2 separate regions of the Homo sapiens genome follow, and region 2 is linked to region 1. The links come from fine-mapping of genetic effects on gene expression. A gene starts in region 1. The other region holds a variant in brackets. All regions are shown on one strand. Distances are from middle to middle.

Region 1 (15,430 bases):
TATGGACTTGCCCTGAGTTCTTTCTAGCACCAGGTCCAAGAACCCTTTCTTGGGGTCTGGATCGGGACCCCTTTTTGGTAACACAATGAAGCATTACCACAGCATAGCCTATCAAAGGAAATGACTGGAAATCCTCATTGACAGTATCATCTCTATTTCTCCTAATAAATCAAATCTATGCTGAGAGTCAGAAACTCTAAACTCTCATCTCAGAAATTATAAAATCCTTGGGCCCCAAAGGATGTTAAACAAAACCTGGCCAAACCTCCCTGTTATGTATCTTCTTCCTGCAATTAACAGACTTCAATACTAATTTAAAATAAGAATTTAAAATTTAAAAATATATTTTGTAACTATCTATAATATATAGTATAAATTTAATATATTTTGTTGTTCTTGCCAAAAATGTTGGAACTGGCTGCCTGTAGACTTTCTGATGAGTAAAACTCTAGGAAGACTTGGGAATTGAGCCTACAAGTAACGCCGGCCTGCATTTCTATGGCACTTTACGTTTACAGTGTTGCCTGGACATTCATACACTCATCAGAGGGCTTGTCATAACAAAGCTCACATAATTCTTCCAGCTCTGAAGTATATCGAGAAGATAGACTATTCTCTTGTTACTGGACGAGGGATCAGCAGAGCGAAGAAGCTGAATAGCTTCAGTGTAGGACCACAAGTGCCCTGAGGCTGAGAAGTTCTTGTCTCACTGTCTACAATTAGGAGGCACATGCGTGACTGACTGCAGGATGCCAGGATCTGGAAGGTTGAAGGCATTCATTTCCACTGTTTCGCCTCAGTAATTTACAGAACAGAGATGAAGTACGCTAATGGAAGCTTGCTTTTGTAAAAGGAAAATAAATCTCAGGACCCCAGAATCACTGAGCCAAGGGAAAAGTCAAGCTGGGAACTCTGTGAGGCAAACCTGCCTCCCATTTTATTCCTAAAAAGATAGCTACAAAGGTAAGAAGCTACACACCTCCCTCACAATTTGATCACAAGGAAATTCCCTGTGGACAACAGATGGAACTCAGACTCATCCCTCTGCTCACGTGAGACAAATGCATATCTGATTGTTTCCTTTGCCCTGTTGTTTCACTAAGCCAGACTACAGCCTAAGTGACTATTCCTGTAAATCACAAAGGCTAATCAGACACTCAAAAGAATGCAACTGTTTGTCTTCTATCTATTTATGATCAGGAAGCCCCCTACCCACTTCAAGTTGTCCCGCCTTTCTGGATCTAATCAATCTTACATATATTGATTGATGTCTCATGTCTCCCTAAAATTTATAAAACCAAACTATACTCAAATCGCCTTGAGCACGTCATCAGGACCTCCTGAGGCTGTGTCATGGGCTGTCCTTAACCTTGACAAAATAAACTTTTAAAATTGATTAAAACCTGTGTCAGAGCTCATGTATAAACTCATGGTTTATTCTTTCGACAGATCAAATGCTGAAACAGCAGAGAAAAAAATCCCTTTCTTTTATTCAGCAAAATATAAATATCTCCAATAAAATGTGATATATTTTGGTGCCTGGAATGTTTGAAACATGTAATTTATCTTAAAAGTGAAAACTGGCTGGGTACTCCCAGCACTTTGGGAGGCCAAGGGAGGAGGATCACTTGAGGCCAGGAGTTCGAGACCAGCCTGGGCAACATAGTGAGACCCCCATCTCTACCAATAAAATGATTTAAAAAATTAGCCAGTCATGGTCCTTGCTGAAGTCCTTGCTACCCAGGAGGCGGAGGCAGGAAGATCACTTGAACTCAGGAGATCAAGGCTGCAGTGAGCTATGACTGGGCTACTGCACTCCAGCCTGGGCAACAGGGCAAAGCCCTGCCTCAAAATAAAATAAAATTTTAAAAAGTGAAAACTGACTTAGGGTCATTTTGGAGTTCTATTTAAATTTCTTTAAAAGATGTCAGTATCAGTTCTTTGTGGCTCAACACAGGAGTATTAACAAGATCCAGACCAGGAAAAAAATCCATCCCAAGATTCATCAATGGTATTAAGTCAGATAGAGGAAGGTATTTCCACAGATACTTTATGCAAAATTAAGTGTGCATGATGCATGTGTGTAGCTCTTTACTCCTTTTAAAAACAAGTGGCATCACAGCATTAGTGTATTTTGGCATGTTGCATTTTTTAATCAATGTTATCTCAGAATAGTTAAAATACTGCCTCTCAGTGTAGGCTTTTCAAATCAACTTCATGAGATACAATTTACAAAATGAAATCTACCTGTTACAGGTATAGCTCAGTGTGCATGGACAGAGGTAGAGACCACTCCTGATCACAGCATCCGTGCCCTCTGTAGTGGTCACTCCTATACCCAGCCCCTGCCTCAGGTTAGTGCCAATCTGATTTCTGTCATTAAGTATGAATTTTGTCTGTGCCAGAACTTCATATAGTCATCAGTGTGTGTTCTTTTCTGTCTAGCTTATTTTACTCACCATGAAATTACTGAGACTCAAATTGCTGCACAGATCAGCTCTTCCTTTTTGACTGCCAACTGGTATTCTAATGTGTGGACATAGCACAATTTGTCCTTCCAGTCACTGTTGATAGACAATTGGGTTGTTTCCAGCTTTTGGCTATTACAAATAAAACTGCTATAAATATTCCTTTGTAAGCCTTTTGTAAAAAAATGTTTTATGGCCGGACACGGTGGCTCACACCTGTAATCCCAGCAATTTGGGAGGCCGAGGTGGGGGGATCACCTGAGGTCAGGAGTTCAAGACCAGCCTGGCTAACATGGTGAAACCCCATTTCTACTAAAAATACAAAAAATTAGCCAGATGTGGTGACGTGCGCCTGTAATCCCAGCTACTCAGGAGCCTGAGGCAGGAGAATCACTTGAACCTGGAAGGTGGAGGTTGCAGTGAGCCGAGATGGCGCCATTGCACTCCAGCTTGGGCAGCAAGAACGAAACTCCATCTCAAAAAAAAGAAAAAGAAAAAATGTTTTATTTCTCTTGGGTAATTACCTAGGATAGGAATTGCCAGTTCATGTGGTAAATGTGTATTTAACAATGTAAGGAGCCACCTAAGAGTTCTCTAAAGTGATTACACATTTCAGGCTTCCACCAGAAACTTTTATAAGAGTTCTGGTTATTCCATATCCTCACCAACACTTGCAATGTCCAGTTTTTAAAATTTTAGTTATTTTAGTGGTACACAGTGGCCTTTCACTGTGGATTTAATTTTCGTTTCTCAGATGACTAATGATGTTGAACACTTTTTCCTATTTCTATATCTTGTAAAGTGTCTGCTTAAATCTTTTGTCCACGTCCTTTAACCACTTATTATTATTATTATACTTTAACGGAGTTGTTTTTTTGCTTGTTAATTTGTTTAAATTTCTTATAGATTCTGAATATTAGGCCTTTGTTGGATGTAGAGCTTACAAATATTTTCTTCTATTCTGTAGGTTGTTTTCTCTGTTGATAGTTTCTTTTGCTGTTCAGAAGCTCTTTAGTTTAAGTAGGTCCCATTTGTCAATTTTTGTTTTTGTTGTAATTGCTTTTGGCATCTTTATCATAAAATCTTTGCCAGCGATTATGTCCACAATGGAATTTCCTAGCTTATCTTCCAGAGTTTTTACAGCTTTAGGTTTTACATTGTTAAAACAGGCTAAATGTGACCTGAGAAGAACTCCATACTTCAATATTTGAGTCCTTGTAGATGAACTGCCACCTAACTTAATATGTAGACAAGATTGAGAACTTAACTTAGGAGTATGCATCTGTAACAATAGCTCAGTCTTGGCCAATCCCAGCAGCCATACTTCAACCACTCATACACTGCTAAGTGTTCACATAAGGAAAATGATGAGCTGTAACCAATCCAGTTGTTTCTGTACTTCATTTCTGATTTCTGTACGTCACTTCCCCTTTTTTGGTCTATAAATTTGTTCTGACCACGAGGCATCCCTGGAGTCTCTCTGAATCTGCTGTGATTCTGGGGGCTGCCCGACTTGCATATCATTCATTGCTCAATTAAACTCCTTAAAATTTAATTTGGCTTAAGTTTTTAACAACATTCAAGTCTTTAATCCATCTTGAATTGTTTTTTTGCATATGGTATAAGGAAGGGGTCCTGTTTCAGTCTTCTGTGTATGGCTGGCCAGGTATTCCAGCACCATTTATTGAATATGGAGTCCTTTCCCCATTGCTTATTTTTGTTGACTTTGTCAAATATCAGATGATTGTAGCTGTGTAGCATGAATTCTGGGCTCTCGATTCTGTTCATTGTTCTATGAGTCTGTTTTTGTACCATTACCATGCTGTTTTCATTACTGTAGCTTTGTAGTATAGTTTGAAGTCGGGTAGCATGATTCCTCCAGCTGTTCTTTTTGCTTAGGATTGCCTTGGCTATTTGGGCTCTTTCTTGGTTCCATATGAATTTTAAAATAGTTTTGTTTTCTAATTCTGTGAAGAATGATATTGGTAGTATAATAGGAATAGTATTGAATCTATAAATTGCTCTAGGCAGTATGGCAATTTTAATAATGTTGATTCTTCCTATCCTTGAACAAGGAATGTTTTTCCATGTTTGTGCCATCTCTGATTTCTTTCAGCAGTGCTTTGTAATTCTTGTTGTAGAGATCTTTCACCTCCTTGGTTAGCTGTATTCTTAGGTATTTTATTCTTTTTGTGTAAAATAGGTGTTTTAAATTGTATAATCTGCCATTTCTCGATCTGTTTTTGACTGATTCTTCTTCCAGCTATGGGTTATGTTTTCCTGTTTTTACTCCTTTCTAGTAAAACAGGATTGTAGATATTACCATGTTGAGTGCCTAGATTTCATTGCTTCCCTTAAAAGTGTTAACACTTGTGTTAGCAGGCAGTGAGTTACTTGTAGATCAGCTTGATCACTTGTTGGCTTGTTGTTGTGTTCTGTTTGTGTGTCTAGAGTAGCCTTTAGAACTATTTTATCCATCAAGGTGTGTCCCTTCTGGGCTCTCTCCTGGGTGCCCTGGTTGTTTAATAAGCTGTCTCCATTGTGGCTGTTTCGAATGGCTGTCCCCAGCCTGATGCAAGCACTGTGAATAGTTCACCTCAAAGCTTCATGGCAGTTGTTCTTGCCTGCTTTGCAAATTTCACCCTACACAGCTAGCACTTAATATTCAGCAGAAGGCTCAGGGGGATCCCTCTGCAGATTTCTGGAGCTCTTTCTCTCAGCCGTCCCTCATTGCTAGTAACATGCTCTGCAAATTCCAGTTACCTCAGCCTCTTCAGACTCAATTTCTGCCTCTTCTTTTAAGCAGGAGCCTGGGCTCTGGGTGCCCCCTCCTTGTCCTGCAGTTTAGGAAGTGCTCCAGGCAGAAAACGGTCACTAATGGAGTTCACCTCCTGTTCCCCTTATCTTGTGGATCTCAGACATGTCCACCATGTGCAAAAAGTGCTCTACACACAGCTGTCCAGTTTCCTAGCTGTTTACCATGTGTGAGTAGCAGGAGCCATTTCGCTGCCCTGGCCAGTAGCTCTCAGTGCATTTTCCATTTGTTCTTTTATGATGAGCAATGCTGACCACATTTCACTCTCTCTATCAAAGGTTTCTCATGCACCTTGTTATTTACAGGGGGTTTCTCTCTGTTTCTTATTAATTTATACATTAAAAATTAATATTTTTTTGGAATATGAGTTAAAAACATTGACTCTCTGTTACTTGTCTTTTGAATTTGCTTTTTTTTCTGTTTTTTCTTAATGAAATCAAATCTGTCTTCTATCTTACAAGGGTCTTTTAATAAAACACAGTAATTTTGAAGTTCAAATGGGAAAATAAACAAGCAAGAAGAGCTAGGAAAAAATATGTAATAGGAGAACAATGACAGCCCAGCCTTGACAGAACCTGTGACACATTACAAAGCCTCAATAATTAATACATAATAGCAGATGCAAATATAGGAGAAAAATCAATTCACAAAGAAGAAAATTCAGAAATTAACCCAAATATATTTACAAATTTAGTATATAATAAAAATGACACCTCAATTCTATGTTGAAATGATGTATTGCATACTAGATAATGTTCATTTGGGGAGAAAAACAAAAATTCATTCACAGCTTTGTGTTACAGAAAGATAAACTCCAAATTCATTGAAGATTTAGAGTGTCAAATATCAAATTATAAAAGAACCAGGAATTATAGAATTTTTTTTCAATTTCATAGTGGAAAAGACCCAAGTATGGCAACAAAATTTCTATATTTCTATATTTTTACATGATCAGCAATTATTTGTACAACGTACAAATACATTGTAAAATACAGGAAAAAGTACAGATATGAAAATATGAAGGATAAAAAGCATCTATAACATTAATACTCACCAATACTACTGTCTGCATTTTGATGTATGCTTCAATTGATTCCTATTGCGAAACATGTAGACTGATTCCACTTTTAGCTTTTATAGCCATTACTATCAGGTGGTAATTATCTTGGGAGAGATGCTCTAGATGCTCAATATGTTTTAATTACATTTATACATATATCTAGATGCTGGATACATTTGAATTAGTTCACTGGAGTGGAAACTTGTTCTTTCTGCTGCTGAATATTTCATCTACTTTATTTCAGAGGCAGCACAACTTGTCTGCTTACATTGATGCTGCAGCCATAGTATCTGGAGTGGATTGGGTGACCCGAGGCTGCTGTATCAGGACGACATTCCTTTTGGTGCCACAGCAGGGCTTTATAACCAAAGCTGGTCCAATACCAGCATCTGATGGGGGACTTGTATAGGAGCTGCCAGAATAACTTTTTCCAAGGCACTTCTGTTTCCACTTGCTGTGGGATTTTTGTCTCCACAAGGGGAGAGTCTGAGAGCAAAGCCTTCATAGGGGAACCTGGCAGAAGGTGGAGAGAGCACCTGGGCTCTGCAAAGCCAGACTGAAGTCACAAGCCGCTCTGGACTTCTTCGTCAAATGGACCAGCAACATCTTTTTCTGTTAAAGCAATTTAGACTAGATTTTCTGATACATGCAACTGAAGCACTGTAAATAATACATGAATCTTATCCCCTCAGAAGACTTTCTACTTTGAACTCTCTCAACCAAGCAGTATTAGAGCAAATAAGCAAATTCCTCAGTTGAGAGTTAATCTTGCAAACATCCTGCTGTAGGGAAAGGTCATGGCCTGATCTGTAAACACGGGAAGAGAGCCATTGGACTTGGGAATCAGATGCAGCCTCACACGGCTGCAGACCGCAAGACTCATCCTAGACACAGCTTATGTCACTGTGATCCAGCTGTTGACAAGGCTGGTCACAGTGAGGACATCTTCAGTGTGTCAGCTGAACTACAGAAAATGTTACAGATTCTAATCAACTTCTGATAAAATCATGCGTGGTCATAGTTACATGCAGTGAATTTCTCTGTCAGAACAAAAAGAATATGCAAATAAAAATTTAGACATAAGCCTCAAATCCCATCCTCAGCATCAAATGATGGCTCACCCATTTTTCCTCTGCTGTACCATAAGGCATATAGAGCATGACCTGATCAGAGTGCTGATGTCCCATTCTATCATACTGATGAAGACACAGGTCATTACTAATGAAGCCTCTTAAACCTCACATCATGGTTAGCATCTGCACTCTCATAAACGTCTTAAGTCCCTTGAATCAGGCAAAATCTCTATAAATATTTAAGTTTTTTCTAAAAAAAGAGTGGCTGCCAAACCTCAAGCTAAGAAACTTTCAAATAAAGTTTTCTTTAAAACAAAAGTTAAAATGTTTTAAATTTTCATAGTAACACATTTTTTTTTTAAATTAGAAGGTCTTATAAAATACCGGAAAGACAATTTTTACTTTGGAAACCTCAAAAGCATAAATCAGCTTAAGATCTGGAAATAATTTTAGGTATTGATCGCAGTTCTATAAACTCAATGCTAGAGTCACTGGGGACAAACAGGGACATGAGAATCCTACTCGGAGTAAATTGCCACCTGAGGTGACAAAGCTGACTACGGTTTCCAATCTAGTTGTACACGGAGGGTCAGGAATGAAAGCAAGAAGACCCAAGGGCCCCTCTCCACCACTTTCCTTACCAGAGTTCAGATTCCCAAACTTTTGCTTCCCTTATATTATTTTCTTCAATGGACTCTAATTATGAAAGGAATACTTACAGGAAAGCAAGCTTACTAAATTTGGTTTTCCAAGTTCTTACTGATTACATATTAATCAAATTATTAAACCTTATACTTTATGTGAAATGGAGGTTAACTCATTAAACTGATAAAATTCCATCTAAGATCAAAGGAACTTGAATGCTGCTAAAGGTATATTTAGAATAAACTAAAGAAATCTTAGCCAAAAGAAAGTGTATGTATCTAATCTTTAGAGAGGCTTTCAAATGTTGCTTTAAGCTACTTTTATTAACAAAACTGCATTTTGAACTCCACTGCTTGACAACTATGGCCTTTGTTTCTTAAGTCAATTCTTACCTTTCTGGGGCCTTGGTTTAACTACTTCCTTTGTTTTAAGGACACAAAGCTTGTCAGTTCTCAAAATAAAAACCTGTCTCTCTGGTCAGATCATTAACTCCCTAGTCAAACTTTCAGACTACCGTCTGAACATCAAGTGCTAGCCTGAGCTTGTTTCCAGTCCCCCAACCCCAGGCTGTGGCTGGGGAAGGAAGAGGACAGCGAAAGCTTTCTCTGCTCCCTCGGGAGACAGGAAAGCCCTTTATTTATTCCTGCCCTTCCTCTTCTCCAACTGAAGAGTGTGATCTTGGTACAGAGCAGTTCCACACATGCCACACTGGTCTGATCTTTTAGAGTAAAAAATGGGATCTTCTCAGAGAAAATTTTTTTAAAAACTTCATGTGCTTAGGTCTCAGAGCAGAGAATTTTGTCTTATCATGACGCCACTCACTGGCAAACAAGCTGGCGTGCACAGGGACTTGTGAGGCTCTCAGCAGAGTCAGGGTAGCAGTTATTTCCCTTTGACTGCCTCAACTTCCTATGTTTGTGTTGACATGCCAGATCCTTATTTCTGCGGAATGAGAAATCTCTTGAGAATAAAGTTTTCCTAAACAGAACAAAAGTATCAAATCACTTTTGATGAGCAAACATTATTTTAAACTTTTTTTTAACTTACAAAAGATGAGGGGTAACATTTACTAGTTTTACAGAAATTTTCTTTAAACAGAACATTAGTGAACCAAATAACCAATTCTCCTCAAACATGATAGACAGGATGGAGGTTATCACTTTGATCATTTTAACCTCCAACATAGTAATTTGTAAACATCAGTCGCTGCACAAGTATTTTAATAACAGGCCAGCCCACGGGAGTAAACAGCACCTTAGCCTCGAGACCTGTTCTCTCAACTGTGTGTACAGATTTTCTAAGTCGTTATGAATTCAGATATTCCCTACATCTCAATAAAAACACCTAGGAGAACAAGAAATCAGGACATGCATCTCCTGTAAGCAGAAGAGAAACCGAGCACCTGCTCTCTTGCGGGGGGGCAGCTTCGTGTCACTTTCCAACTCAGCCTCCACAGGAGCATGGGCATATTGGTTCAAATGAAGTGTAAAGGACACATCTCTGTCCACAGTGTAAATCCTATTTCCTTAAGGTGGTCAACCGATTGAGACCAGTTCCACACTTCCTTAAAGAAGGAAAAACTCAGCAGCCAGCGCCAAGGCCCAGCGATCAGAGAGGACCCGTGCTCGCCGCGACCCCGCGCTCGCCCTGTGGCCCCGCGACCCCGGCGCCAGGTGTTGGGGGGACCGGCCCTTCCCTTCCGGGTGTGAGGGGCTGGCCCTTCTCTTCCAGGTTGGGGGGCTGGCAAACTCGAACCTCGCCGGCGCCCTAGCCAAGGCCTCCTCCCCGCGCCTGCCGCGGGTTCCACGCACATTCCAAGCGCGCGCATTCGACCCAAACTTCAGAGACGCTTCTGTGGAACGGAAGGATGGTCGCTGACACCTCGCCGTTCAAATATCAGGAAGTTAAAAATAACACGACCATCGTCATCATTCCAAACTTCGGAATAGCTTTTCTAAAAATGGAAAAGACGGTGGCTAAACTTCAATCAAAATCGCTGTGGTCAAGAAAGTCCTGGAAGCTGCTCTATCTTAACTTTGGGCGGTTTGCGGTTAACAGACGCGCGACCTAGAAACCCCAGAGGCATCGCCGGTTTTCCCGTCCTCCTCCTCCCACCACCGCCCAGCTCTTGAGAGGGGAGGGTGCTGCCGGACAGGTGGGTCCCCGGGTACTCACTGCTGCCCGCCCGGCCGCGGCGCCCCGTCCCGAGGCTGCCCAGGAAGAGGAAGGCGCGCTGCCCCGCCCCGCGGACAAGGAGGCCCCAGCGAGGGCGTACCTGCGGCAGGTGACGAAGGAGGCGGCGCAAAACACCCGCCGTGTACGTTTCGCGGGACAAAAACCACGCGCCCGCCGGGCCGCGCTCAGGCCTTCGCCCTCAGGGACTTCGGAACCGCCCCGTCCTCAAGATCGAAAAGCCCAGAGCCCCGCGGCGGCTCCAAGCACGGTGTTGGGGGTGGGGGTCTCAGGGAGCGCCCAGGCCCAAGGCCGCCCTGGTCCGGCGTGGACCCCGCGGGGCTCAAGGCAGGTTCCCCGCGTGACCCGCCCAGCCCCTCTATGCGAACTCGAACGACAGGCACCACAGCCCGCCACGTGCGCGAGACTCGCGCTGTGCCCCAACCCAGGTGGGCGGCCCGCGGAGCCGCGAGGCCTGAGCCCGCCCTGCAGGTGACCCGCGGCCCTTCCTCCTCCAGGTACCCCTCTCCTGCGGCCCCGTCCCCTATAGGTAACCTTTACCTCCCGCGGCTCCTTCCCCTCCAAGCGACCCGCAGCCCCGCCCCCTCCAGGTGACTCCCCCCCGCCAACCCCCGCCACCACACACACACACCCCCTCGCCTTCCGCGGCCCTACTCCCTCCAGGTGACCCCACCCCCGCAGCTCCTCCTCCTCCGGACAACCTGCAGCCCCGCCCCTGCAGGTGAACGGCGGCCCAGTCCCTGCAGGTGACCCGCGGACCCTCCCCGCCCGTCCTACTACCGTCATAGGACCGCCTCCGCAGGCGCACTGGAGCCGATTGCGCAGGCGTGGCTCTCACACGCGCTGCCCTGTTGGCGTTGGTGCGGGACTGCGCAGGCGCGCGGGGCAAGAGGGTGGCAGTGCGCCTGCGCCGCGTCGGCGTGCGGAACGCCGCGGTGTCTCGGCGCCTCTGCGCGCGGGAAGATGGCGGAACAGGCTACCAAGTCCGTGCTGTTTGTGTGTCTGGGTAAGAGGGCGCCGACTTACTCATGTTCTGACGTCCTCTGGAGAGTTGGATCGGGCTTGTGCGCTGTAGGTTGTGCCGCCGGCCTAGGAACCATGAGGGGGAGGAGGCCAGGGACTGGGAGGCCTAGGGTGTTCTAGGAGTGTGCCGCAGCGCCCCTGTTCCCCATCCGCCCCGTGCACCCGCCCAGCCTGCCCGCTAAACCTGGGTCCCCTCGCGCCTGCCATATATCCGGGGCTCTTGGCATCTGCAGCCACAGCCCCTACAAGCCAAGGTACTTTCTTTGCGACTACTAGAATCCCTCTCGTTCCCCTCCAATGGGCCCAGGTAGGCCTGGAGGTTGTCGGACTGATGTGGTCTCTTAGGGGCCTCCTGAGTCCTATGACAACATTGTTTTGTTTGCTAGTTTCCTTAGCCCATGCTTAGATAGGGATCTGAGTTAAAGGGAGATGAAGTTTTACGGTTTCGGGTTTCTTGATTGTAAAAGCCAAGCAAAGGAGACCTGGAGGTCCCTATATAACTTTGGCCCATGAAAAATGAAAGTGTATTTTATTAATGGCTTTTCAGGAACTTTCCAGCTTAAATTATTTTCACTCCTAGAATTTCAACACTTAGCTTGCCTTACTTCAAACATAATTTATTTTCCGTTTGGTCTTCAGGGATCTTCCTTTGGTGTAGCACTACAAGGTTATATTCCTCGGTGCCTCCACCCTGAGAGGAAGGCCTAAATTGTCAGTAGTCCGGTTACTTAAAACCTTCTGTGAGTTTGCATTTCCTGCAGTTTCTGTTTATTTTTACAGACTCCTCACTTTATCTCCTGTACCTTTTCCTGCTCACACCCTCGGGACACTGCCTTCCAGAACCTTTCGTTGTTCGGTAGCACTTCACATGCTTACTGAGCCTTCATCGCTGGGTGCCCATTATGCATTTTGCCTGGAAAGCCTTTTTATTTTATAAAGTCAAACCTAAATATTTCCTCCTTTGCTTTCCCAGATCATGAGTTGCTTCCTTATCGACATCTTTTATTACACAAATTTTACTATAATTTGTGTAATATAGTAAAAGATGTAATACAGAAAAGGTGTGATTCCTTATCGACATCTTTTATTACACAAATTTTACTATAATTATTTGATAGTCTGTTGAAATCCCAGCTGAGTTTAATTTTGTCGATGGCAATAACTGTGGCTTATTTTTCATTTTGTTTTCAGCTTTAGGACAATATATGATAAACGCTGACTAGGTTTTGTAGAAGTTAACTTCTGTGAAAGACGAATTAGAAGGCTTACCTTGTTTCACATTGGTAGTGGGCATCATTTGATTTTTAAGACTCATTGAAGGCTGAATGATGAAATCAATAAGTTTATTAAACAGTAGTTTGGTTAAGGATGGTTACTAAATAATATTCCATTCCCTTGTATAGTTTTGGTTGGTATTGTCGATTATGCTGGCATAATGCATCATGGTTGCTGTTAATGGGGAAGTGTATCCTTGCATATACAGTAGTCCCACTTTAGCTGTAGGGGATACATTCCAAGACTCCCCAGTGGATCCCGAAACTGTGGGTAGTACCAAACCCAATTGCTGTCAATTGGAACATGTGTCTGCTCGTTTCTTACACCCACAAATGTAATACCGTTGCCACCTTAACTAAGCATTTAAAACTGTGGTCGCAACTTTTGCAGTTTGAGGCAAGACAGCAGACGATCAGGAATTTCTTTTTCCTTGTTTACATTTTCATGGATAGAAGATTTGTTCGTACTGTAGATCTTAGTAACCTCGGTATAAGTTTTTTTTTTCTTTCCATAAGAAGTCAAAAACTTTCACCTTTTTACTTAAGGGTAGTGCTTATGGCTTCTCTTTGCCGTATCTGAATTGCTAGCTTCACTACTCTTATGATTTCGGGCCATTATTAGTAAACTAAGGGTGACTCGAACTCAGGCACTGTGATAGCATCACAATGGATCTGATAAGCTAGAGGGCAATAGGTGGATAGACAGCATGGATATGCTGGACAAAGACGTGTTTCACTTCTGGGGCAGGACGGAATGGGATGGCATGAGAATTTATCCTGCTACTCAGAACAGTGCACAATTTAAAACTTAGGAATTATTTGTGGAATTCTTCATTTAATATTTTCCAACTGAAGCTGACCATGGGGTAACCATGGAAAGCAAAACCTTGGAAAAGAGGGGACTATTGTATTTCAATACAATTCAGTGATTTTTTGTTGTTGTTGAGCATCTACTATATGGCATGCATTCCTCTAAGTGGTGTGGTGAACACAACAGACAAAAATCCCAGCCTCTCTGGAGCTCACGTTCTCTCAGTCACCAGCAAGTATTAATTGATGTGCTCAATCGGTTGATGTGAAGATTAAGAAAAATAGAGCAGAAAAGGGGAATGGGAGTGGAGTGCAGTTTTGAGTGGGATGGTCAGGGAAGGCCCCACCTGATAGATGACTTTTGAGTAAAGACTTGAAGGAGGTGAGGAAGCAAGCCTAGGATATTTTGGAGAAGCATCCTGAACCCAGAGGAAAGCAGGTAAAAGTTTTGAAGGGAGAATACTGGCCATGGTCATGAACCGCAGGGAAGCTGCAGTGGCTGGGCCTAGTGGCCAGATAGTTTTTCTCAGTCAGGATTCCTCATCTATACCTGAAAATTTAGCAGATAATTTGAGCGCCTGTTTTCTCAGTGCTTCCATTGTAGATGTATAGGGAGAAGTTAATTCCTTATATACACTGGTCCTTTAGGGCAGGAGTCTGCAAACTCTTTGTTTAAAGAACCAGATTATAATTATTTTAGATTGGCTTCACATGACATACAGAAAGGGTGTAGCACAAAGTAGCCATCCATATGATGAACCTGGCTGTGTTCTAGTGGATCTTCATTTGTGGACATCAGAATTGGATGGAACTCTGTATAATTTTCACATGTCACAAGGTACTCTACTTTTAGATTTTTTCCAACTACTCAACAATGTAAAAATTATTCTTACCGCTGTGGGCTGTACATAAAGGCAGTGGACCATGAGCCGATTTTCAGACCCCTGTTTTAGGTCCAGATCTTGGGAGGCCATGTGAAGACTTGGGCTTACTCTGAATAAACATTGGAGGGTTTTGAGCAGAGGTGGGAAGTGATCAAATTTAAGTTTAAAAAAGAAGAGTTTCAGCTGTTGTTTTGAGATGAAACTGGAGGTGGAGCATGCCTTTACTGGTTGCATTCTGAGGGAATTTGAGCGGTAAATGGCATTTTACTTGGTAGCCATATAGAGGACAGTAAGAGTTGTATGCTTTTGAAATGTAAAAAACTTTGTTCATTCAAAGCATTTGTTTGGACCCTATTGAGATTGAAGTGTAGAAAAGCATCAGAGGTTTTTCATTGGTGAAGCTAATGATGGAAAATAATTGAGCTCCTTACTACAGCACAATTATGAAGGGTGCTTTATGTTTTTGCAATAGAGACTTATTAGTGAAGATGATGCAGGAGCCATGACCCAGCCAGCATGGTTGGTGGAGATAGCACATGCTGGTGGAGTCACTTTACTTCTGGGCTACACCCATACTGGGTGCTGGGTCTCTTACCAGGTATAGCAGACACAGCCCCACCCTCCCAGAGCCTATCTGCCTTTTATGAGTCTCCATCCTTGAATTGAAGATGCTGAAGAAGGGTATAAAATAGTCTGCCTAATTTGGAAAAGACAAACTTGAGACTTTACAGATTGAAACATTTTTTAAAGGCATTTGAAGATGGAATGTTCTGTTTTTAGAACTTGTTTGATAGGCGAAACCTGAAGTACATGCAGTGTTTCACTGATGACCGGGGTGCTCCATTTTTTCATAACAAAATTTGGTGGCATCAACTTTCGAAATCAACAGGGCAAGCTACTGCTAGCCTTTAGGACAGTTAATAATGCAAGTTTTCATATTGTTGTGGGGAAAGTAAGCTGTTATTTTACAGTTAAAGATAATTATTTGTAAACGTGTGGGGCTAGTCTTTATTATATTTTTAGATGCTGAGATACTAGGCATCTGTTGTTCTACAGATCCAAAATAATAATTGTCTTAATTTGGAATACAATGTTTGCTGTTAAAAATATTCCCAGGGTATATGGTGACAAGTAAAAGAGTTACACACCCATGGGAAGCCTTTCAATAATTAAAATAGTGCTGAT
Region 2 (15,993 bases), 120 kb before region 1:
GAGTCATAATAATAACAATCTCTTATATTTAATTAATGTTTGTATATACAAAATATTTTTACTTATGTTATTTCATTTACAGTATACAAATTGGATTTTTCCTTCTTGTAAATTATTTGCCTAGGCCAATGTCCAGAAGACTTTTTCCTAGGTTTTCTTCTAGAATTTTTACGGTGTCAGGTCTTAGACTTAAGTCTTTAAAGCAGTTTGAGTTGATTTTTGTGTGTGGTGAGAGATAGAGATCAAGTTTCATTCTTCTACATGTGGCTATCTAGTTTTCCTAGCACCATTTATTGAATGAGGGTGTCCTTTTTCCAATTATTTCTATGTATGCTTTGTTGAGGATCAGTTGGTTCAAAGTTTTTGGCTTTATTTCTGGGGAGTCTATTTCTGTTCCATTGATTTATGTATCTACTTTCACACCAGTACCATGCTGTTTTGGTTACTATAGCCTTATAGTATAATTTGAAGTCAGATAATGTGATGCCTCCAGATTTGTTATTTTTACTTAGGTTTGCTTTGACTATTTGGGCTTTTTCTTGGTTCCATATGAATTTTGGGATTGTTTTTTCTAATTCTATGAAAAAATGACGTTAGTATTTTGATAGGAATTGCATCGAATCTGTAGATTGCTTTGGAAGTAAGGTCATTTCCATGATATTGATTCTTTCAATGCATGAGCATGGGATATATTTCCATTTGTTTCAATGCATGAGCATGGGATATATTTCCATTTGTTTGTGTCATCTCTGATTTCTTTCAGAAGTGTTTTGTAGCTGTCTTTGTAGAGCTTTGTCACCTCCTTTGTTGAGTATATTTCTAGGTTTTATTTGTTTTGCAGCTGCTGTAAAAGGGATTGAGTTCTTGATGAGATTCTCAGCTTGGTCACTGTTGATGCATAGCAGTGCTACTCATTTGTGTATATTAATTTTGTAACCTGAGACTTTAAAGAATTTATTTATCAAGCCTAGGAGTCTTTGGAGGAGTCTGTAGGGTTTTCTAGGTATATGATCATATCGTTGGCAAGCAGATAGTTTGACTTCCTTCTTTCCAATTTGGATCCCCTTTATTTCTTTCTCTTGCCTGATTGCTCTGCCTAGGGCTTCCGGAAGTTAGCCTTGATTTAAATTTTTCTCTATACTTCATTTTCTGTTCTTCACTAATATAGACCAATATATGGCTAAGAACCAGAAAATTAAAAAAAACATATTAAATTGGAGTAGATATATCAATTCTAGTCTTGCACTAAACACTCAATAAATGTTTCTTTATCAACTGAATAAATGAATAAATGGATAATGAACAAATAAATAAATGGTTATAAAGATGGTAGGATTTCAGCTAGACTTTTAAGGATTGACCTTTTATCAAGAAAATGAAAGGTATTCTAGGTCACAATGCCACAGTAAGTGAAGGCACAGCACCAAGAACAAAGAGTCCACAGACGTCTTTAGGAGGAGACTGATGCAAGACTTAGGAGATTCATTTAAGGAAACAGAAAATACCTATGAACAGGACATGTTTTTACCTTCTTGGAGGATATGAATCTGTGGCTAAAAGTTAAGGTTAGATAACTTTTTTGTAGACAGGAAAATCATTTCAAAATCATAAGACCTCTTATCTTCAAATGAAAATCAGGAGAAGTAGGCAGGCACAGTTGCAATCGAGGGTTGGGATATGGGAGGGTTTTACTTGGTCTATGTCCATTTCATTTTTTAGGAGAATAATTAATAAATTGTTCTAAACTCTTTAGTGCTGTTATTTGTGAGTGCTATATAGAGCAATATGGATGGTTAGCTAGATGCTGCTTACATTTCTGCATATTGTGGGCAGAACAAAGCTTTGCCGAGGATTGCTCAGGGAGTCATCCAAACACTTAGAACTCTGAAGTCTTAGGTTTCCTGCAAGTTGCAGTGTTGAGTTTCACCTAAATCAATGATTTGCCTTCGGAGTTTAAAAAAAGTGTCAATACTCAGGACCCACCCCAAAATAACTACATCAGAGTATCTGAAGAAGGAGTCTAAGCATTAGTGTTTTTTAAAGCTTTAGTGTGATTCTAATATGCAGCCAATTTGAGAACCATTGGTCTATGTGTTACAGAAACTACTTTTCAAAGGCAATGAGAGGCATCCAGTCAACATGTTATATTTTAGTCAAAATCTACAATGTAATTTGTATTTTCTGAGTCTCCTCTTGCTCTTTTTTTTTTTTTTTTTTTTTTTTTTTTTTGAGATAGGGTCTTGCTCTGTTGCCAAGGCTGGAGTGTAGTGGCATAATCCAGCTCACTGCAGCCTCAAACTCTCAGGCTCATCTGATCCTCCCACCTCAGCCTCCCAAGTAGCTGGGACCACAGGCATATGCGACTACACCTGGCTAATTTTTAGATTTTTTTGTAGAGATGGAATCTCTCTATGTTGCCCAGGCTAGTCTTGAACTCCTGGGATCAAGCAATTTTCCCTCCATGGCCTCCCAAAATGTTGCGGTTAAAGGCGTGAGCTACAGTGCATGGCCACCTTTTGTTTTTAGTTTAGAAGAGTAATCTGGATCAGGGACTGGTAATACTAAATCAATCTGATGGCTGGAGAGAGGCAAGTTTCAGGGACAATAGTGCTCATATGACCATAGTAACACTTGCTTAGCCATTTGTTGTTTCCACTGCATTGTAATATTTCTGTTTTCATTAATGCTCTAAAACATGTTTTTCTATCACAGGGATCCTATGCTTCTATTCACCTGGAATCACACTGATGCACAGACATCTGTGAATAGAAATTAAAGTTATTTGCTGAGGTATTCATGTTAAAAAAATGCATCTGGAACTGTGTAGCTTAAAGCTGCAGACGTGTCAACAACTACGCATGAAATGGAATGTTCCCACTGGGATCCACTCTTGATACATGACCATTATCTGTTCTTAACACTTTGCATCTTACTCTGACAATGTGATGCTAGGGTCAGGACTTGCTCAGTTGGACACTACAATGGATAATATTTAAGAGAAGAGGCGATCTGTTTCACATTAAGTTTTCAATAGAATTTGCACTTGGAATAAATGGTATCAAGACGAACCCTGTGCCATTGTTTACTCAATTTTCCTAGGGCTGGGCCATAGAATTACAAAGCAAGCCCTGCACCAAGCCTGCCAGGTTGTATATGGTGACATTGCAGGGGGAATTCTCAATGAGAAGCACACAGTGGTCTCACTTCCACCACTGAATGCCTCTCCCTTGGGCAATGCACCTAGTCTGCCTGGACTGAACATCTCACTATGTTTATCTTGTTGAGGAAGATAAATGGGTGTCAACTGGATTGAGGCATTGTTAGACTAGGGACCCCTGAGATGAGGACAGCAAGCAGAAATTGTGCCTCACACTGAGAAGTGCAAAGCGGCAGCAGGGGTTTTTAGTTGATTATGACAGCCATGATGCTTTGTCCTCATTGTAATTATCACAGTAAAGCGTTGCAGTTTCTTTAGTCTTTTGAGGAAGTGAGGGAGTTGAAACTTTCAATATTCATAATGTTGTAAAATCTCAAGTTTCCTATTCATGTATTTTATGTCTAAAATACACAAAACATAAAATACATGAATAGGAAAATCCTACTGTTACTTATTAGCTGTTTGGGGCAAACTTGATGGTGCCGAACAATGGAGGAGTCCATTTCAATCTTGGTTAGCAAGATTTCCCACAGAAAGGGGAGCAGTAACCCTACAGAGAAAAAGCGAGCCTTGAGGAGAGTGGATGGAACGTGCTTGGGATAGAGAGACACAGCTGGGGGCAGCACCTTCATTCACACAGCCAGCCATGGTGCCAGCCAGCACAGTGTGGAAGTAAAGAAATCTACAAGGAGACTCACAACCCAATGAACAGACTTTACTCAAGAGAGATGCCAGGGAGAGACTTTTAGCTCATTAGAAAACCAAATCTGCCAGGCGCGGTGGCTCGTGCCTGTAATCCCAGCACTTTGGGAGGCCAAGGCGAGGGGATCACCTGAAATCAGGAGTTCGAGACCAGCCTGACCAACATGGAGAAACCTCATCTCTACTAAAACTACAAAATTAGCTGGGCATGGTGGCACATGTCTGTAATCCCAGCTACTCAGGAGGCTGAGGCAGGTGAATCACACGAACCCAGGAGTCAGAGGTTGCAGTGAGCCAAGATCGCCCCATTGCACTCCAGCCTGGGCAACAAGAGTGAAACTCCATCTCATTCCTGAGCCAATCAGAGTAATAATTCCATGCCTTCTCATTTTGGTGGAAATCTAAAGTGGTTTGGATTTGATATAAAAACAGAAGATTTAACATTCCTATTCTTAACTCTTTCTACTTCCAAGTCCTTGAAATTATAGAAAAGATGTAATAAAATGATAATAATTAATGGCTGGGCATGATGACTCACATCTGTAACCCCAGGACTTTAGGAGGCTAAGGCAGGAGGATCACTTGAGCCCAGGACTTTGAGACCAGCTTGGGCAATACAGTGAGACCTTGTTTCTCCAAAAAGTTTTAAAAATTATCCTGGCATGGTGGCGTATGCCTGTAGTCCCAACCGCACAGGAGGCTTAGGTGGGAGGATCCACTGAACTCAGGAGGTGGTGGATGCAGTGAGCTGAGATCACTCAGTGCACTCCAGCCTGGGCAACAGGGTGAGACACTGTCACAAAAAAGGAAAAAAAAAAAAGACAAGAAAGAATGTAATCAGCAAAAAATTAGAAGAATTTCTGAAAGATAAAAAGCACACAGCATTTGATTTTAAAAGAAATATAGTGTAAGGAAAGAACAACTAAACAAAATGGATGTATCTTGTGATCCAAGGATTCCTACTCTTAGATATACCTACAAGAAAAGCACATATGCTGATGGCTCTATTATTAGAAACAGCAAAAATAGAAACCATTCAAATGTCCATTAACAGTGGAATGGAAAAATTATTATAAATTTGCACAGTAGAATACCGTACAAATGTTACTGGGAGGGGTGCAGGGTCTGTGGCTCTTGCCTTCTTGGAAGAAAGAATTCAGCCAAGAGATGCACAGCAAGGGTTAAGCAGCAGAGTTTCTTGAGGGAAGATAGAGGACAGTTCAAGAAGGGAGTGGGCTGGCCTGACTGGAAAGCAGCGGCAGCAGCGAGGTTTATTTAAAGGGAGAGCACACACTGAATGACAAGGCAGAGCAGGTTGCTGGAGAGAGGGAGTGAGCCAGCAGCAGCCAGTGCTGGGGACTCTCTTTATGAGGATCTTACATGATTATTCATGAAGGGATGTGAGGGGCTGTCACTTGCAATCATGTATTAGGTGGTTCCACATGCTCTATGGCTGTACATGCTAGTACACACATGAAATGTCTCATTAGCATTTAAAACCTCCACCTAGGGGTGTGTTTTTTATAATTGTAATGGGCAAAGTCTACTGCAGGGTGAGTTACTGGAGGAGTGAGCATGCTTGCCAATGGGAAAAGTCTCTACCATGGTTGTCTCCAGCTAGAGCCTGAGGAGTCCCCCTTAGGGCTGGAGGAACCCAACCACAACATAAAAGTAGCCAGTGTAAACTACTACCACACACAACAACGTGGCTGAATCTCACAAAAGTAAGATTGAGGGAAACCAGTCAGGAAAGAAAGGACAATTATGATTCCATTTATACACAGTGCAAAAACTTGGCAGCACTAATATATTCTAACCGGAATGGTATTGTCTTCAGGAAACTGGAAGTGTGGGAGGTAACTGTGAAGAGGAAAAATAGGGTTTCTGGGTACTGGGAAATATTCTGTTTCTTGATCTTGGTTGTACTTAAAGATGTTTCACTTAGTGATATTTCACTGAGCTGTACACTCAGCGTAATATGATTTGTGCGTGTCATATGTGTATATTATACTTCAATAAAAATAGCATTTAAAAAACACAACTCTGAACAGCACAACTGATTGGATATAGAGAGTGATTAGTAACCTGAAAGATTTTGGTTGAGAGGAAAGATTATCCAGAAAGCAGTGCAAACAGATGGAAAGGATGAGAAAAAAGTGTAAAGCCAGTACGTAAAGATGCAGTAATTCTACATAAAAAAAAGATTTCTAGGAAACGTGGGAAAGTGAATTTAATCTAATATTGCTGAGGCATGTTAAAGGGTGTGATTAATCGTATGTGCTAAATCACTCATTGGAAGTACTAGTAAAGAATTAGTTGGAAAATAATTGCAAAGTAAGCTCAATGGAATTATTGGTGCAAACTGAATATCTTCTGACTGTTTACTAAAAGAAGGGTGATGTATAACAACCGTAGGTTTTATTCATATAAATGAGCTGAAAATTCACAGTAGCTTTGTAACTACTTGCTGGATAACTGCATACATTCAGGGATTTTTTTCCCCAATAATAAAAACTTTTACTCATAATCACCAAAACTTAGATGGAACCAAGATGTCCTTCAGTAGATTAATGGATAAATATACTGTGGTACATCCAGACAATGGAATATTGTTCATCAGTAAAAAGGAAGGAGCTATCGAGCTATGGAGGAAACTTACATGCTACTACATGAAAGAAGCCAATCTGAAAAGGCTACATGTTGTAGAATTCCAACTCTGTGACACTCTGGAAAATGCAAAACTATGGAGACTGTGAAAATATCAGTGGTTTCTAGAAATTGGGTGAAGGCGGGGATGAATAGGCCGAGTGCAGAGGATTTTTAGGGCAGTGAAACTATTCCATATGATGCTATGATGGTGGAAACGTGTCATCGTACATGTGTCAAAACACATAGAATACACAGTAACAAGAATGAGCACTAATATAAACTATGGACTTTAGGTGATTAATGAGGTGGCAATGCAGGCTCATCAATTGTAAGAAAATGCACCACTCTAGTGGGT[G/T]ATGTTGATAATGGGGGTGGGAGTGTTACACACAGGTGGGGCTAAGAGTATATGGGACATCTCTGTACCTTCTGCTCAATTTTGCTGTGAACCTAAAACTGCTCTAAGAAATAAAGCCTACTGATATGGTTTGAATCTCTGTCCCCACCCAAAACTCACATTGAATTGTAATCCCCAGTGTGGGAGGTAGGGCCTGGTGGAAGGTGATCGGATCATGGGGACGGCGTTCTCATGAATGGTTTAGTACATCCCCTTGGTACTGTACAGTGAGTGAGTTCTCATGAGATCTGGTTATTTAAAAGTGTTTAGCACCCTCCTCCCTTCCTCCTGCTCTGCCATGTAGATGTGCCTGCTTCCTCTTCACCTTCTGCCATGACTAGAAGCTTCTTGAGTCCTCCCCAGATGCCACTGTGCTTCCTGTACAGCCTGCAGAACCGTGAGCCAATTAAATCTCTTCTTTACAGACTGGGCGTGGTGGCTCACACCTGTAATCCCAGCACTTTGGGAGGCTGAGGCAGGCGAATCACTTGAGGCCAGGAGTTCAAGACCAGCCTGGACATCATGGCAAAACCCCGTCTCTACTAAAAACACTAAAATTAACCAGGTGTAGTGGCGCACGCCTTTAGCTATTTGAGTGGCTGAGGCATGAGAATCTCTTGAACCTGGGAAGTGAAGGCTGCAGTGAGCTATGATGCTGAGATCACACCACTGAACTCCAGCCTGGGCAACACAGCTAGACTGTTTCAAAAAAAAGAAAAAAAATCTTCTTTATAAATTACCCAGTTTCAGGTATTTCTTTATAGCAATGTGAGCATGGACTAATAGTCTACTAAAAAGAAAAAAGGTTATTCTACACAAAGTGGTATGTTCCTCTGGGTAGAGATTTCCCTTTTTTTCCTCCCAAAAATTTGGTTATAAGGATGGGATCCCTCAACTAAGCCCTCCACTGGGCACATTTCTTGGAGTATTTGTAGCCATCTTTAATCAAATAAGGGACTATTTGCTAAAAAGTGTTTCTTCAACTACTTTGGTTCAGTGGAATTGGGTTCCCAGGGAAAATCCCAAACTCTCACTAGAAGTTTTGAGTTACCATTGAGTAAAATTGGTAATGTGGCTGAAAGGCCCTGTGTGGTTTGCTGTTGGCTTTAATGGTAAAATGTTCTGAAAACTCTGGAATGCTGTCAGCGGGTCCCTCTCCTGGAAGGCGTGCTTCACTCTGCCATGCCGGGCTCCAGGAGGATAACTGCTTGCTGCTCCAGCAACTCAGGCTGCTTGCTGTGCCTGGAATGCTCAGCATGAGGGGCCACCGAGGGCAGTTCCTGAAGCCTCTCCACTGAAGGTGGACTGGGAGAAGCCACAGTGCCACGCTTCTTAGCCACATGAGGCCCGTGAGTTTTCACCAGCTGTTCACCTTTCCTAAGTCCAAGGCATGTCTCAGGGGGTCCGGGCTCCTGATCCTCTCCACTTCTGTGGCAGCTTTGTTGCAGAGAATTCAAGAGAGCAAATAAGGGAAAATGTAGTTGGGTGGCAAGAATAATTTCTCACGTTTTGAGGGAAGTAGCCCAAGTTTGGGAAAATATGGAGAAAGATAAAGAAGACAAAAAAATAGCCCTTAAGATTTCCCAGTTAGAATTATTCACAAAGGGAATAAACCCTTATCTGGGGCCACCACCAGACAAGAAGGAACCCCGTAATGGAAAGTCAATATGTTACTGTTGTAAGAAATCAGGACAGTGGAGGAAAAATGAATGCTAAACGAGGGTCAAGAAGAGTTGAGAGATACAAGCTAACTCTAAAGCTTTACCGTCATCTCCAAGAGATTTTTGCCTAAGGAAATTGGACAAAAAGTAATTGGAAAATTGTGGAAAGTAACCTCAGAGCTGAGGGTGGGAGGCATTTATGTGTCTCTTTCTTTTCCCACTTTAAGCTTGTCCTGATCTTTCTTGTGAACACTGAAGGCACACACTCCACAATTTCTACAGACGGTTATCATTTTACGTCAACCTAGGAAAACATCCAACTTTTGGGTACCTCTAGACAACCTTCTCCCTGTTCTTTCTTCTCTGAGGTTTCTCAACAAGTAGATTCTCCATACTGTAGATGGAGTGTTTTCAGAGCTCCCAGGAGGCAAGGAGTTGGTAAATAAGCACTTTCTAAAATAAAAGAACTATCATTATCTATTTGTTCATCAAATAGATACTTAGGTTTTTCCCATATCTTGACTATTGTGAATAATGCTGCAATGAACTGAGACTGCCGACATTTTCACAAGGTCACTTTCTCTGACTATATGCCCAGAGGAGAGATTGCTAGGCCATAATGTAGTTCTTTTTAAAATTTCCTTAGGAGCCTCCATACTGTTTTGCATAATGGCTGTGGCAATCTACATTTCCACTAACAGAGTACAAGCATCCCCTTTTCTACATACCCTCACCAACACTTATTATCTCCTGACTTTTTGATAGTAGCCATGCTTACAGATGTGAGACATTTCACAGTGGCTTTAATTCACATTTTCCTGGTGACTGATAACATTGAGCACATTTTCATATACCTGTTGGCCACTTTTAACGTCTTCTTTGGAGAAGTGGCTATGTAGGTCCCTTGTCCATTTTTTTAATTCGGTTGTTTGTTTTTTTAATATGGAATTGTATGAGTTCTTTATAAATATTGGATTTTGTTTCCAAATCTGTAGGTTGCCATTTTATTTTGTTGATTGTGTTTTTTGCTGTTCAGCCTTTAAAAAGAAGGAGATCTTGCCATTTGCCACAACATGCATGAACCTGGAGGACACTATGCAAAGTGAAACAAGCCAGACAAAGAATGAAAAATATTCCATGATCTCACTTACATATTGAATCTTTTAAAAAAACAGGTAAACAAAGACAGCGAATGAAACAGGGTTACCAGGGGGACTGGAGAGGGTGGGGGATGGGAAGATATAGGTCAGAAGGTACAAAGTAGCAGGTGTGTGGGATAAACAAGTCCAGAGATCTCATGTACAACATGAGGACTAGTGTTAAAAAAAATTGTGCTGTATTTGGAATTCCTGATAAATGAGTTGATTTTAGTTGCTATTACCACAAAACAAAAACAAAAACAAAAATGGGTAACTATGTGAGATGATGGATGTGTTAATCTGCTTCACTATAATAACCATTTTACTGTATATATGTATATATATGTATCTTAAAGCATCATGTTTTACATCTTAAATATACACAATAAAATTTATTTTAAAAATTAAAATAAAATAAAAGCATCTCAAATTAGAAGGGCTCAAGGAACAAATAATATGGGTTAGTAAAAGAAATTGAATCCTGCTCTGGTTTGAATGTTTGTGTCCCCTTCAAAATGTGTGTTGAAGCTTCATTTCCGATGTCGAGGTTTTAAGAGGCGGGACCTTTAGGAGGTGATGAGGTGATAAGGCTCCTCCCTCACGATAGAATTAAGGCCCTTGTGAAAGAAGCTTCACACAGCATTCCACCTTTTTGCCCTTCTGGCCCTACCACCATGTGAGGATGAAGCACTCGTCCCCTCTGAGGACACAGCGCTTGTCATGGTGCCACCTTGGAAGCAGAGAGCAGTTTCACCAGGTTCTGACCTTGCCAAGCCTTGATCTCAGACTCCCAGTCTCCAGGACTGTGAGAAATAAATTCCTACTATTTATAAATTACCAAGGTTCAGGTATTTGGTTATAGCAGCACAAACAGATGGAGATCATCCCCTTTTCACAGCTTAAAACAAAACAAAAACATTATGGACATGTGTAAATCAACATCCTCTCATTCTAGCTCAAATACAAGGAATAAAAAACTCAGAGAGTTAGAAAAACAGAGCATAGTCAAGAGAGGCGCATTTTCCTTTTTATATTCCCAAATTACCTGGGAAAAAGAATGAAAACTGGGCAAGAAATTGCCCGTAGATTTGTACAAGCTCTGCGAGAAATACGTGAGGTTGAGGCTGCTCTGATTCCTATTGTTCCATATGGGGCTGCATTCTGCGTCTTTTCTGTACTTTTCACTGAGGTACCAGGCTCTTCTTTGAGTGCCCCTGGAATCTTCTTTCTTCCGCATTTGTGGTGACGGATCCTCAGATTTGCCTGCTATACTTTCTAGACATTCACAAGAGAACTAAGAGAACTTTTCCCCACCTTTAATTCATACTAATTCAACATGTGAGCGATTTATTAATAGCTGTTAACACTGTATGTGCTTACAAACAAGATACTTTCAATTTAATAAAAATTTTGCTTCTCTAAATAAATTGCAGTATTATCAAAGTGAAGTCAGGAATTTGGGACATTTGTTTTAGGCTGGCAGATGAAAACCGGTTCTATCCTGAAGTCAGCCTATCTTAAGCACACACTATCTAACACATATACACAAACTCTGCCAGTTTGGGGGTTGTTTGGGGGTTCAGACTACGGGTCCTTTCCTATTCTGAAAAAGCTAAGCCTCTTGCTATGATGTCACATGAGGAGTTCACCAGAACTTTACTGTGGTCTAAATAAGCTGAAGAAGTCTTCCAGATCCTAAGGAAGCCTTGTTTCCCCATCTGTGCTGGGTGCCTACCCGAGATGACATTTCAAACGTCTTTTCTGTTAGAGAACAAGGGAGAGGCTAGAGGTGTGGCTACTTTGAATCAGACCCTGACCACAGGCCCTTCTCTGTTGCTCTGGGGACACCAGAGTGTCGATGAGCTGTAACAGCAGCTGCCTCCAGACTGCAAAGGCTCTTACTTGGACTCTAGGATATTTAGCTTACACTTAACGCAAAGGGCTACTGCTACTTTACGAGTCCTTGCAAGTCTGTAAGACACCATACTCACCGGTGCACCGCCAGACTAGTTATGCACTAGTCTATCGAATTGCACTCCAGGCAGAAGGAACTGTTTGAATCTGACCTTTCTGTTGCCGGATGCTGGCCACGTTTTGCTACAGCACAAGGTGCTCAGTCTGGGTCTGATTCGGCTGATATTCCTGGTCCCAATGCTGACTCAACAGTGCTCAGTGACTGGTCTCGTGCGAGACACATGGGGAGGTTTAAGTTCTCTCAAATGTAAAATCAGCTCAGGTGCCAGAACCCGAAGCTGTTATGCAAACTGCATAATTGGCCATTGTCTTACGAAGGGAGAATGTCTAATTGATGGCTAATATGCATTGGGGGTCTGTCGTGTCACGGGCCAAATTTGGAAGAATAGAGGCTTTCTAATATCAATGAGAACTAAAATATCACTTGGGAAACGAACTGCTGTCTTACTAGAGTCACTGCCATTGTCTTTACAGATTTCTGTAATGCACTGTAGACTGCATTACAGACCTAACAAGATGAAACATATAAAGGAAGTAAAAAGGGCTAATAAAGTTTGAACTGCGGAAGTCGAAGCCCCGTTACTGCTGCAGAGGAACTCCTATTCGCTGTTTCAGCAACAAACAACCCTCCAAGACTTAGAAAATAAGAAAGAAAGAAAATGGGGTGTCCTCAATAGGATTATTCCTGTCCCCCAGTTGTACGATTGAGTGGATTTTTCATGCCATCAGCAAGCTCATTTGAACAAAAGAATACTCTGAAAACCTTGGAATTCTACTACATTTGCTATAGGGTCAAATAGTTCAGGAAATGACACAAAGGTGTGCTGTTTGTCAGCAAAGTTATTTGTGGGAAACACCCAAGTTAAGTCGAAGAAGCCCGCTGAGGCCAACATGATCTGAGAACTGGACAAACATGGACTTTACAGAAGTTGTGCCCTCGGAAGTTAAGAATTATTGTTTAGCAGGGATGTGTATGATGCCTGGATGGCCGGAGGGCGTTCACGTGCTAAAGCAAATGCTCAAACAATGATCATATCATTACTGAATTTTATCATTCTAACCTTTGGGATTCCAGAACATGTAAAATCCAGTAGATAAGCCATTTGGTTTCTACGGGGCTAATTTAGGGGCTCTTTAAAACACTACAGAGGTCTTTAAATTATTATACTCTTTATTATCACCAAGCTCCTGGGCTGGTAGAATGACTAAACCACAGTGTATTAGTCCATTCTCACATTGCAATAAAGAACTACCTGAGACTGGGCAATTTATAAAGAAAATAGGTTTAATTGGCTCATGGTTCTTCAGGCTGTACAGGAAGCATGCTGAGGGGGAGGCCTCAGGAAGCTCACAATCATGTCAGAAGGCGAAGGGCAAGCTGGAACATCTTACTTGGCTGGAGAAGGAGGAAGAAAGGGAAGCATGAGGTGCTACACACGCTGGAGAAGGAGGAAGAAAGGGAAGCATGAGGTGCTACACACTTTTAAACAACCAGATCTCGTGAGCACTCACACACTACCATGACAACAGCCAGGGGGAAATTCACCTTCATGATCCAATTGCCTCCCACCAGGCCCCTCGTCCAACACTGGGAATTACAATTTGACATGAGATTTGGACGGGGACACAAATCCAAACCATATCACACACCCTAAAGAATTATTTGGTTAACTTACACCAAACCAATGGCTTATTCGAGTGTTGTTACTGGTCCTGTTAAAAATAAGATCAACTCCTAGCAAGCATGCTATTTCGCCTTTGGAGTTAACATCTAGTGACCTATGAATTCAGGATTTAAGTTCACTGCTTACCTATAAAGGAAAACACCATAGATGTACTACTTAACTGGGTTGCCATCTTTCTAGGCTTATTCTGCCATCACGTGGCAGATGCTGGAAAAGTCCCCAAGGAGACGTGCTATCAATTTTGACCAGAAAAAAGCTACATAGAGTTCCAGTGACAAGACTGGATGATCATTGTGCTAAGAAAGACCCCGCCAGGGGTGGATCAGGAGGTCAGGAGATCGAGACCATCCTGGCTAACACGGTGAAACCCCGTCTCTGCTAAAAATACAAAAAAAATTAGCCGGGCCTGGTGGTGGGCACCTGTAATCCCAGCTACTCAGGAGGCTGAGGCAGGAGAATGGCGTGAACCTGGGAGGCGGAGCTTGCAGTGAGCCGAGATAGCGCCACTGCAGTCCAGCCTGGATGACAGAGTGATACTCCGTCTCAAAACCAAAAAAAGAAAGACCCCGCCAGGTGTTGCTGATAACTCGCCCACCATCACAGTGAAGGAGAAGCTCGGCTTCACGAGAGCTTCGCCTGTGACCGCACCTGTGACTGAAATGGCCGTGACTCCTGGTAAGGACTCGAGGTTGAATCCCCAGACAGTAACGTCCAGGTCAAGGGTTTATAACTAAGAATAATCACAATACTATAAAACAAGGGGTACACTGAAAAACATAGAATCTAGTTATGAAAACTAATAAAAATAAGCATTAAATATCTTTCAGATTATGAGTTTTAAAAATGAGACAGCATCCTGTAAATAGTTTAATGATAAACCATAAACTGGAACAATCTATCAGAAAAGCAAAGCAGCAATATAGATTTGAACTATTGAAAAGTTTATATTCTTTGGCTTTAAATATCTTTATAAATACATTTAAAACAAATTTATATTTATTATATGAATACATTTATTAAATACAGATAATAAAACTTGTTTAATCCTAAACGAGTCCTGTTCAGAATTCCTTCCTTATTTTGTCATGCTTTAAGGCCCATGAAAAGCTTAGGCAAAACTCTGGGTGGGCTTTTGTTACATTCCAGCCTTTGTGAAAGGGCACTGGCTTTTTTAGCTTTTAATATTTAACTTAACCACTCAGTCAGTACTGAAACAGTTGTGAAGGAGGCCTGCATTAGTGAGACCTGGCCCGCCACAATCCCCACTGTCAATTTGCACATGATTTCTACCATGCTTGTATATTTATTTATCACGAGAATCGTAGGGAGATGGGGCATTGTAATCTTCCTGGCTGCTTCCTGCTGAGAGGGGGTCGTCGTGATGGGGCACTGTGTGCAGCACTGGAGTGGGAGAGGTCGATTTCTTCCCAGCGGCACTCTCTGTTTCAGGAGCTTAGCGGCAGCGCCTGCTGAAACGTAATAGTATGCAACAGTAACACATGTAAACAGGTTGTTGCTGTTTTCTTCTGAGGTTTAAGTTGTCTAGTCTTCAGTTCACAGGGCTTTATGAAAGCACAGCTTAGGTTTCCGTGATTTCCAATCAGGAAAAATGGGGAAAAAGGAAAAAACTGAAAACATTATTTTGGAGACCTGTAGCCAGAAAAATTAGAATTTAATCTCAACCATAGAAAATAATAAAAACTGGAAAACATCAGGCAAGACTAGAATTTAGCAAGAAGTGTACTATAGTTTCTGAAACATAATTTTTATCTCTCCAGTTTCCCATTTTTATTAAAAGACAAATCATGGTAGGACTAATTTGCTTTATTATAATTGGTCAGATTATCTGTATAAAGTGCAGCAAGAATAATTATTTTCACATCAGCCTTTTAAACTGGCTTTTATGGAACTTTGTTCTGTAGAAGGAATCTGAGATAAGGCTTTTTTAAAGCCAAGCCCAGCCATGGATTTGTACCATCAAATACCTATGAGTTGGGTGAATTCCTCTCCTTTTGAGGTTCCAAGATAACTTGGGGTTCCTGGCCTGTCAGAAAGTGACATTCTTTACTTACCACAGATCAGAAACCCTGTACAGGGACTGTGTACATGGAATAGGAGGCCAGTTTCCCAAGGGCTTTATTGGCTTTATGAGTTAAGTTTGATTCCTAAAAGGAAAGAATACAATTCCAGTCAAAGCCTTGGTAAAATAACCAGTTTTTCCAATTGTGTCCTGTTACAAAAGAAGACAGATTCTTACTACACTTACACAAATAAGTATATTGCCGTAACTTGAGAATACTCACAAATAGTTTCCAAATTCTGGAGAATACCAAGTAGAGAGAAACAAATATACTCCAAATTTTGTTCATGGGAGTATACTAAGTTGTTAAAAAGCTGTCAATAGCTCAAAAGAAAAGTTTCCTTGACTCTGAAAAGCAAAACAAAGGATTGGCAATATTTTAAGCAAAATGCCAAAAGGATCACTCCAGTCTCCTATTGGTTCAGTTTATGCAGTTAATTCCTGTCCTGCTTGATATTAATGAAAATTTTAGCTCTTCAAATTCCTGAATGTTTTTCCTCTATTCTGATGTCAAAATCTCCAAAGTTATCAGAAACCTGCATTCAAGAGCCC

The links.
Region 2: its variant is fine-mapped to the expression of ACP1 in tibial nerve (GTEx, PIP 0.96).

Annotation. Positions count from the first base shown.
Region 1 is chr2:253,748-269,177 of GRCh38, forward strand. It overlaps ACP1 (acid phosphatase 1), which reads left to right and starts at 11,200. Exons shown (of 6, transcript NM_004300.4): 1 at 11,200-11,260. The coding sequence starts at 11,218. SH3YL1 (SH3 and SYLF domain containing 1) reads right to left here and starts at 10,285. Exons shown (of 10, transcript NM_015677.4): 1 at 10,237-10,285. The coding sequence starts at 10,237. RefSeq lists silencers at 10,181-10,760, 10,831-10,910 and an enhancer at 11,261-11,310.
Region 2 is chr2:128,723-144,715 of GRCh38, forward strand. No RefSeq gene overlaps it. Among named protein-coding and RNA genes, the nearest start is that of FAM110C, 90 kb to the left of the region's middle. The variant G/T (reference allele first, on the strand shown) is at 6,864.